Homo sapiens: one gene and its partner. The protein of the gene in region 2 interacts with the protein of the main gene of each other region in a pairwise test. Each region holds a gene or a part of one and is shown on either strand. Other genes may lie near its edges.

Region 1 (4,709 bases), on a different chromosome or scaffold from region 2:
ACACCTAACAAGGGCGTGCTCTGTTTGCTGGAAATCATTGCACTATAGACCTATGATTCGTGCATTTTTCTATATGTACATTATACTTAAATAAAACTTATTTTACAAAATATCAGGCAAGAATACAATACTATCTTGCCTATTCAAAATTCAATTATCTGGCAATCTAACTGAGGTAGAGTACAGCCAATAAATGGAAATTAGCAAAAATGACAGGCTCTCACCTACAGCGGATTTGTTCTAACTTAGAGTGCCACAAAACTGTGATACTGGTGTCTAGGTCCCTGTAGATTATGAGCAGGAAATTAGGAGGAAGATTGACACATTTAAAGAAATAGCACATAATAGCAAGCAGTATGGGTTGAAATAGACTCATTAAATGCAGATCTGAGAAACAGAACAAGCACAACCTTTTGTGCTTACATTGTGAAGATGTGAACAGCCCTGCTCACCATTCACGGCTCCTGAAAGCAGCACAGTGCAGCAACATATGTATTATCATCACCTGATTCATCAGCGAGAGATGTCATCATGAGTGGTGTGTTCTACTTAAGAAGACAGGGATATGATACATTTTAGAAAGATACCTGTCAAAAGCAGTTTATTATTATTATTATTTAATCTGTGTGCACAGTAGGGTAAACTTGTCAGTATATGTTTTTAAAAATGGTTTCCCAGAATGGCTCTATGGCTGGATGGCTGACTCTGTGTGAAGCCTCTCTTGCACTTGTTGCTTTCAGGTCTCTATAGAATGTTATATTTATTCATTCTGCATTACCACTCAGAGAGGATGCATAGAGTACGGAGTGAATGTGGACTTTGGGCCTCAGAGATCTGGTTCAAGTCTCGGATGTACCACGGCTGTTTAAGATGCCACTTTTCTTACAGGGATACTAGAAGGATAAACTTAGATTCTGCCTATCAGTCCACTTACCTACCCATCCACCCACCTATACGTCCAACCACCCATTCATCCATCCAGCCACCCATCGTCCGTCCATCCATCCATCTATCCATCCATCCACCTACCTACCCACCTATCTATCATTATGAGGTACAAATAATAGTATTATGATGTTAATGCTAGTACGCATCTGGTGATTAGTTCTTTTTAGATTGTTTTTATTTTTTAAGTGTATGTTTAAAAAAAAAAACAAGTAGACAATATGAACTGGAAAACAGTGAAATCAACCAGAAATGGAAGGTTTAGAATCTAATTCCCATTTGTGACATTATGCAAAATACACAAAATCTCCATTGTCTGAGTTTTCCCTTTTGTAACAACCATTATCTCTCTGCAGCAAGAAGGCCTGAGATTTAAAGACTGATTATTTCGATATTCAGCTGTTCTCTAATTTTAAGTGAATCAGCTCTAGAAGCTACAGTAGCTTCCTTGGGCAAGCAGGCTACCATTCAAAAACCTACGACGTAACTTGTACTGTACAGACTTGGAAAATGATTTCAAGCTAACCCCACTTCATGCGATCTCCAAGCCGAGAGGTTTCTTGTTGGCGCTGCTGTAGTTTCCCTCCTGTTGCTTTCCACAATATTTGAAATTACTGATTCAAGGCAATTTTTTACTTTAGAGACATTTTATTGATTTTTCCCCCTTGTATTCTTAGCTGTTGTTCAGTTTTCTATGACTTTCTATCTTGGTTTGTATAGTACATTGTTATGAACCCTAAGTTTTTACAAATATGTCAAAGTAATTCCCAGAATCCCCTGTAAATCTTATGACAGTAGTTTCAGACTCTCAAATACATGATTGAATTTGTCTGATCTTTCGTTCCTCCAGCTATTCATTTCGTAAGAAAGTATTTCTGGCAGGAATTTTCAGTGTTAAATTAATCACAGATAAGATAGAGCTTACTTTTGCTTGCCTTCAGCATCATTTTTCTCTTGGCAATTTTGGGAGTTAACCTAGGATAAAATAGTCCTAGATTAGACCTCCTTCTATTAATATTTACTGCCATTTGATGGTTCTGTTTTAAAAAGCATCTACACTGAAAACTATCATGCCTTGGAAGTCACTTTAAATCTCCACAGAGTCTTTGGAGCTCATTCTGCCCATTCTTCCTTAGCACCTTTTAAAAATAATCAACAGAATAACTGAAATGAATGGTAAGATCTTTACAAGGTGCCTTAAGCTTTCCCTTTTTTCTACATATTTGTAAGTTGCCTCGCTGACAGAAATACCCTTTCTTCTAAAAAGGAAACTCACATACTCCTTTAGAGTTTTCTAGTACCAAAAAGGCAATTAGTGGATTGTTGTTAAAGAAGCGTTTTTATGAATGCACAGAACTCTGCACGGTATCATTGGTGCCATCTCTGCCTCTTCATGAAGATGATCAGCAGCCTCACTTCTGCCCCTCTCAAATAATCAAGGTGACCAGGAACCTGAGCGCTGTATGTGATATCTCTGTGATTTTTAGTGCAGTTAAATAATGCTGCAGATAAGAAATAAACTGCTGGATTCTCTGGATGAAGTACTCAAACACTTGTCTTTCTACAGAGCTGTATACACTTTCGGCAATGCCATTGAAGGAATCAGTCTCAGAAGAAGAGACGGGAGAGAAAATGCATTTGCACGGTGCTGAATATTATTTAAGTTAATGGAGGTGAATTTGAGTTGTTAGGGTGCACGGTTTAAAAGCGTGCTCACTTGCTTTGATACTGAGTAGTTTTGGTGCTTATTGAGCTGAACATTTACCTGGATAAATACTTACTGCATTCCTAGAGTATAAGGCAGAATGTAAATGGTTGGTAAATTTTTGCAGGTTTGTCAAAATTCAAGGTCCTGTTCTAAGCGTGGGTCAAACGCGGCTCCGACTTTCAAAGAGATTACTTTCTATCGAGGCACTTTAGAAATGTGTGTTCTTCTTATTTTCAAACAAAGAGAAGACTTGGGGTACAAAAGTATGAAAATAGGAGCATATTTATACAGCAGAAAACTTTTTCAAGAGAAATGCGAAAGTTGGCTGGTAGATGGTAGCTGGAGCTTAAAGCAATCATGAGAATTTTTTAAAGTTGTTATCTTACGAGGAGAGAACAATGTAATAACTGGGAGATGTGAAAACTAGTTCACATGTGAAATAGCAGCAGATTGAGACGGAATTAGTGAGAGAATTTCAAAGAAACTGATCAGTGGTAGAGACACGGCATAACTATTAGTGAAGAACACACTGGCTTCAGGTCTTTCGAAGAAACGCCTGCTGGAGAACTAGCCTGCTAACTTACATTTATACTTGTTTTCTCAAATAGTTATTAAGTGGTGGATTATAAAAATGTGTAATCAGTAATTAGTATTTCCTCTTTGATGATTTTCTGAACATATTTAGGAATATGTTCTTGGAAGGGATATTGTGCTTTCATCCTTCCTGCATTCATTCCCTCCTCCTTTATTTAAATGCTTGCTGGATGCCTCCTATATCCATCTATAGGAGCTTAGGACACGATTTTGTTTCAAGAGAAAATTCTGGTTCACTCATTTTTATTTTAAGATGTGGTTTAAATTGCAATTTTTACTTTTAAGATTTTTTGCCAGTTAGTTTTCATTCCATTTTTTCCTTTTATTATTTACTTATCTTTTTTAGCTCCTTTCGTTGTTCCCTCTGAATTTGGAATACTTCCAACTGTTCTCATTTGTGTATATGTCTGTGTAGGTATCATATAGTCTTTTACCATGTACTTTTTTTAAAAGATTGTTTTACATATATAGTGTATATATATATATATATATATATATATATATATATATCTTTATAGATTAAGCATTCCTTATCTATGGAAGATTAGTGCTATTATAGGTCATTTTTTTTGGGATGTGTCCCTCTGAAACACATGGCCTCTGGAACCAGATGCCTGGAGTAAAACCCGGGCTTTGCCATCTCATGCGTGTGACATAGGGCAAGTGACCTAATTTGCTCAGTTTCCTCACTTGTTAATTTGGGACAATACTAATATTGTAAGGACTAAATGGCTTGCTGTATACTTAAAGTGCATTATGAATTAAATATAACATTCCCAGCAGCAGAATAAATTCCTTTTGTTAGTTAGTATTCTTGGTGTAGAGTTCTGATGTGTAAACATATTTTTATTTTTAAGGCAGAATGCAATATTTCACACTTACAGGTCTTTAAATACTCTGTAAGTACATAAAAATAGAGTCAAAGTTTTAACTTTTAAAAAGTTACTTTTATGAGAATATTATTTTATACTTTTGTAGTGTTAACATATTTTCCTGTCATTGATTTAACTTTCATATATAAATAGGGTTCTATTATGATTATACCATTTTTAATAAAACTCTCTTTTGGATTTAGCAATTTAGAGTTATTATTTAGTGCAGTTAATCTGTTTATTTAAGATGGGGTTTTCACTGAGTCCTTCAAGGTTCGGAAAAGTGCCTAAGGGAAAAAAGACTCCTACCCTAAAGAGAGTTCATATAGTTTTTTTTTGATTGCCTGTTAATGTCGCTGAAGGATTATGATTTTGTTTTTGTTAAAGTTTCATCCTAAATTCTCTAAGACGAATAAAGGTACAGTATCAGTAATTCGTCTTCCATTTAAGGGTGAAAGGCTGAACCAGTCAGGCTGTACTGTGGATGTTTTACAAGTTACAAATGCCTCACTAAACCACCCTTCTCAGAAGACAGTCACTGGGCATAGAAAATGAGCAGGATTATTTGCAGGATGTTACACCTTTAACAC
Region 2 (5,920 bases):
AAACATCACCATGTTAGACCAACATGCTTTTTTTTTTTTTGAGATGGAGTTTCACTCTTGTCACCCATGCTGGAGTACAATTGTGTGGTCTTGGCTCACTGCAACCTCCGCCTCTCTAGTTCAAGCGATTCTCCTGCCTCAGCCTCCCAAGTCTCTGGGATTACAGGTGCCCGCCACCATGGCCCAGTTAATTGTTGTATTTTTAGTAGAGACAGGGTTTCACCATGTTGGCCAGACTGGTCTCAAACTCCTGACCTCAGGTGATCCACCCGCCTCGGCCTCCCAAAGTGCTGGGATTACAGGCGTGAGCCACCGCACCCAGCCCCAAGATGCATTCTTAAGTAAAGAGAAAGCACGGTGCAGAACAGTATGTTTGGTGTACTACCCTTTATTGTTTAAAAATAAAAAGAATATTCACATGCGTTTTTCTGTATGTGCATAAAACATCTCTTGACATATACATGAGAGACTAGTGACCTTTGCTGCATTCAGGAAAGAGGGAGACCTTCACTGAAGCCTTTTTGGTATTGCTATTTGAACAGGAATGTACCACTCATTCAATATGACTAAAAGCTAGAATGAGTTTGAAGTAGATGCCCTCTCAACTTCACTCCTTTTTAAAAATTATGCTCAAACAAAATGTTTTTTTTTTTTGAACATGTAAATTAGTAATTAGGAACATGGCTTCTTGAGTTTAAAAGACCTGAATTTGAAACTAACTTTCTGCCTCTAAAAAGAGGGATGGGGGTGTGGCATTGGGCAAGTTCTTTTTTAAGTCCAGTTTCAGCCAGGTGCAGTGGCTCATGCCTGTAATCCCAGCACTTTGGGAGGCCAAGGCGGGCGAATCACGAGGTCAGGAGTTCGAGACCAGCCTTGCCAACATGGTGAAACACTGTCTCTACTAAAAATACAAAAAATTAGCCGGGAGTGGTGGCAGGTGCCTGTAATCCCAGCTACTCGGGAGGCTGAGGCAGGAGAATCGCTTGAACCTGGGAGGCAGAGGTTGCAGCGAGCCAAGACCACATCATAGCACTCCAGCCTGGGTGACAGAGCAAGACTTCATCTCAGAAAAAAAAAAAAAAAGTCTCAGTTTCCTCATTGGTCAACGGTGGTTCACACCAGGTTCACGTTAGCACCGTGGAGGTGACATGCATGTATGTCCCAGACTTAGCACACTGCCTGGGACCCAGGGAATGATCCAAGATGACATCTGCAGGTTTGGGGCAAGTATCCATTCTTCCCTCCTTCCCACCTGCTGATTCCACCTCACCTTCCATTGAATATTTGAAGAAAAGATCATTGACATTGGTCACGGTTTCTCCATCTTCTGCCTGGCTCCTGAGGAGGTAGATTCTTTTAATTAAGTCAGCAATAACTTGGTTGACTTCTCCAGAATAAATGGCCACATCTTTCGGTTTCAGAATTCTTTGTCTCAATACGCTTCTCATCTTGAGCCACTGTTCACCCTCCCTAGAAGAATCAAGTGAGTTTCAAATCATCTTACTTACACTGACATTCTGGGAAAGAATTCAAGGAACCTCTAGAAAAAATTTCAGCCATAAAGAATCAACAAGAGCTGCCCAACAAAGTAGAATTAAGACAGGAAAGACTTTTTGCTGGGGAGAGAGAAGTTAATAACTGCAGCCCTGGAGCCTGTTAGAGCTTCTTACACTCTTGCCTTTGAAGCAAACTTTAAGGAAAAAACTACCAGTGGTAAGTAATAATCTTTAGTAAAAGTAATACGACTTCCTTTAAAAAATCTTGAAATAATATTGTAATAAAGAAATGAGATTGCTAATTAGCAAAAGAAAAATATATATATATATGCATACATATGTATATATAAATGAAGTAAGTACTGATATTAAAAAAGAAAAAGAGGGCCAGGCATGGTGGCTCATGCCTGTAATCCCAGCACTTTAGGAGGCCAAGATGGGTGGATCACCTGAAGTCAGGAATTCAAGACCAGCCTGGCCAACATGGTGAAACCCCATCTCTACCAAAAATAGAAAAATTTAGCCGGGTGTGGTGGTGGGCACCTGTAATTCCAGCTACTCGGGAGGCTGAGGCAGGAGAATCACTTGAACCCGGGAGGCAGAGGTCATGGTGAGCCAAGATCACGCCATTGCACTCCAGCCTAGGCGACAGAGCGAAACTCCATCTCAAAAAAAAAAGAAAGAAAGAGAGAGAGAGAGAGAGAAAAGGAAGGAAGGAAGGAAGGAGGGAGGGAGGGAGGGAGGGAGGAGGGAGGGGGGAGGGAGGAAGGAAAGAGAGAGAGAAAGAAAGAAAAGAAAGAGAGAGAGAAAGAAAGAAAAGAAAGAGAGAAAGGAAAGAAAGAAAAAGAAAGAAAGAAAGAAAGAAAGAAAGAAAGAAAGAAAGAAAGAAAGGAAGGAAGGAAGGAAGGAAAGAAAGAAGGAAAGAAAGAAAGAAAGAAAGAGAGAGAGAGAGAGAGAGAGAAAGAAAGAAAGAAAGAAAGAAAGAAAGAAAGAAAGAAAGAAAGAAAGAAAGAAAGAAAGAAAGAAAGAAGACTGCAGCTTGTTACCAGGGTGTGGGAAAGAAAGAGGGACTGCAGCTTGTTACCAGGGTGTGGGGCCTTGGGGCTCCTGGCTGCACTCGGAGAGCACCCAGGTAGCAGGCCCAGCACACCGCTCCCAGTGAAGGCAGGACGCTGAGGGAACCCCTTGGAGGTCTGAGGAGTGTTCTGCAGTTTCTCAGAGGGTCGTGGCAGGACTGAGCCTCAAGTGCCCACGAGCGTCACCCACACCTCCACACCTCCGCATGGCTTGCCTCCCAACCCTGCTCCACTTTCGCGTTCTCAAGGAGACCACCTGCACTCAAAGCCTTGCCTCCAGATGGACTTTGGAGGACCCAAGCTAAGCCAGCCCGGCGCCTGGGCCTAGGCACTGCCCTTCCCTTTGCTGTCCACTGTGCTGAAGTCACCAGCACCGCCTCTCTCCATCTCAGCCGAAGAGGGGTCCAGGCACCCACACAGGCTCCTGAGCCTGCAGCTAACGGGGCAGACAGCAGAGAGATTCTGCCTCAGCATTCGGGCCCCTCTAGGCCTGAACATCCAGGAGGAGCTGTTTAATTATTTCCCCCAGGACGGAAATTGAGGGACCCTGGTGACATCTGGTCACGATTCTTATTTATCTTACTTGAGAAATTGGTGGCTGTATTTCTCCCCAATTTATGTATAAGGACATAGATATCAAAAGAGCTGCAAACAGAAGTCCCACCCCATGGGGATTTGGACCGGGGCATCTGCAGGCGCCCTGGGCCTCCCTGCCTGGCCGCGGGCCACGATCTCTTGGAAGGCACAGAGGTGTTGGTGACGCTGGTTCAAAATGAATAATCACAGTCTGCTATGAGACAGGAAAATCACCACGTGGCGACCAAGGCTGGAGGTTCTTAGCCCCTCGTCAAAGGGATTTTCCTGAAATAGTGACCACCTCCTTTCCCTGTGCACAGACAAGGGCGCTGTGAGTTTTGTCTGCCTCGGTTATCACTGAATGGACTCCCAAAGCCACAAAGCCCTGCTTCCGAAGCGCTCTGCCCACCACGGAGCCAGCGTCGCCCCTCCTGGCTCCTGACGGGACAACTCTGCACGGAGGAGGAGCCAGAAAGCCCAGCAGGGCTCTCATGTCTGGGAGATCGCACAAGGAGACTGTCTGATATCATTCCATGGGGGGGTTCTGTGCTTTTTTAAGAGCTGGCTTTTAGGAACTCAGCTTTGGAGGAGGGGGCCTCCCCCTGAGCTCCCCCTCCAGCCCGTGGCTCAGCCCGGGCCCACATACTCACGCCGAGATGAGCCCGGTGGCTCTCCCCCGCAAGTCTCGGTACTCCCGCCAGGACTCCATGTTGGCTCTCTGGGGCGCAGCGCCCTCCGCCCGGAGCACCTGAGCCACCATATCGCGGTCTGCAATAGATACTACAAACTGAGGACCAAAGTGAGACTTGAAGATTTTTCCATATTCCCGTGTGTGCTTCTGCTGCAATACCATGGAGAAATCAAAAAAGGAAAAAATACATAGATATGATATACCTTTAACATAAACATCCTGTGTGCTAGAGGAGCAGAAAATTGGGGCAGAGGGAAGTGCTATCTAACACAGCACTGAATCAGAGCAGTAATTTACATATTGCTGAGATAAACATGTTTTCACATAACCATCTCTTTTTTGTTGTTTCCGTTTGTTTGTTTGTTTGTTTGTTTGTTTGTTTTTTAGAGACAGGGTCTTGCTCTGTTGCCCAGGCTGGAGTGCAGTGGCATAAACATAGCTCACCGCAGCCTCCAACTCCTGGGCCCAGGCAATCCTCCCACCTCAGCCTCCCAAGTAGCTAGGACTGCAGGTGCACACCTCCACTCCCAGCTAATTTTTTATTTTTTGTAGAAACAGGGGTCTCTCAATGTTGCCAGGCTGGTCTCGAACTCTTGGCCTCAAGTGATCCTCCTGCCTCAGCCTCCCAAAGTGCTGGGATTACAGGCATGATCATGGAAGTTTTCTTATTCTTTAGGGATATGTTTTTAAAACTACCTTAGCTGTGTGAAGCAACAAGAGAGAAATGTCATTATAAGAGACAAATGTCCAGAGCAAACAGAGCCCTGTCTGCCAGCCCCTTTCCATGGGCCCAACAGCTCTACCCAAGCAGTACCAAGCCAACTCTGCAGAGCAAGCCCTCTGTGGACAGTCTGTAACGAGCCTCTAAAACTGACTCCCAGCAAGAAAATGAAGGAAAAGACATCTGGATTGGAAATGAAGAAGTCAGGCTATCTCTATTGGCAGATGACGTGATCTCACATACAGAAAATCCTACGGAACCTACTAAAAAACTATTAGAACTAATAAACAAGTTCAATAGGACACAAAATCAGTATACAAAAATCAATTGTATTTCTATACACTAGCAGTGAACAATCCAAAATGAAATTTAAAAAACAATTCAATTTACAATACATCAAAAAGAATACAATACTTGACCAGCTGCAGTGGCTCATGCCTGTCTGTAATCCCAGCACTTTTGGGAGGCTTAGGTGGGTGGATCGCTAGAGCACAGGAGTTCAAGATAAGGTTGGGCAACATGGCAAAATTCTGTCTCTAAAAAAAATACATGGCTGGGTGCAAAGGCTCATGCCTGTACTCTCTGCACTTTGGGAGGCCAAGGCGAGGGGATCACCTGGGTTCAAGAGTTTGAGACCAGCCTAGCCAACATGGTGAAACCCCATTTCTACTAAAAACACAAAAATTATCCAGGCATGGTGGTGTGCACCTGTAATCCCAGCTACTCGGAGGCTGAGGCAGTAGAATCGCTTGAACCCAGGAGGCAGAGGTTGCAGTGAGCCGCAAGACTGCGCCATTGCACTCCACCCTGGGCAACAAGAGTGAAATTCTATCTCAAAAAATACATATATATACAAAAATTAGCGAGGCATGGCAGTGTGAGCCTGTAGTCCCAGCTACTCAGGAGGCTGAGGTGGGAGGATCACGTGAGCTCAGGAGGTGGAGGTTGCAGTGAGTGAAGATTGTACCACCACACTCAGGCCTGGGTGACAGAGCAAGACTCTGTCACAAAAAAAAAAATAATAATATTCTTAGAAATAAATTTAACAGGAGAAGTGTAAAACCTATACTCTGAAAACTATAAAACATTGTCTAAAGAAATCTACAAAACATTGTTTAAAGAAATCTACAAAACATTGTTTAAAGAAGCCTGAAATAAATGGCAAGACATGAAATAAATGGCAAGATATCCCATGTTCATGGACTGGAAGACTTAATATTGTTGAGAAAGAAATACACCTCAAAGTGTATAAATAGATTCAGCACAATCCCTATCATAATTCCAGTGGGCTTCTTTGTAGAAACTGATAAGCTGATCCTAAAATTCATATGAAAATGCAAGAGACCCAGAATAGCCTAAA

What was found. Proteins that work in one complex are often made in the same cells at the same time.
Region 1: the proteins of CYP27C1 (region 2) and MTNR1A interact in a two-hybrid assay, tested with the Homo sapiens proteins (one large-scale study listed by BioGRID and IntAct).

What each region holds. Positions count from the first base shown.
Region 1 is NC_000004.12:186,547,859-186,552,567, reverse strand, and holds part of MTNR1A (melatonin receptor type 1A), read left to right. Parts: intron 1-4,709.
Region 2 is NC_000002.12:127,202,102-127,208,021, forward strand, and holds part of CYP27C1 (cytochrome P450 27C1), read right to left. Parts: intron 3,990-5,920; coding exon 3,799-3,989; intron 3,667-3,798; exon of another isoform or gene 3,558-3,666; intron 1,471-3,557; coding exon 1,271-1,470; intron 1-1,270.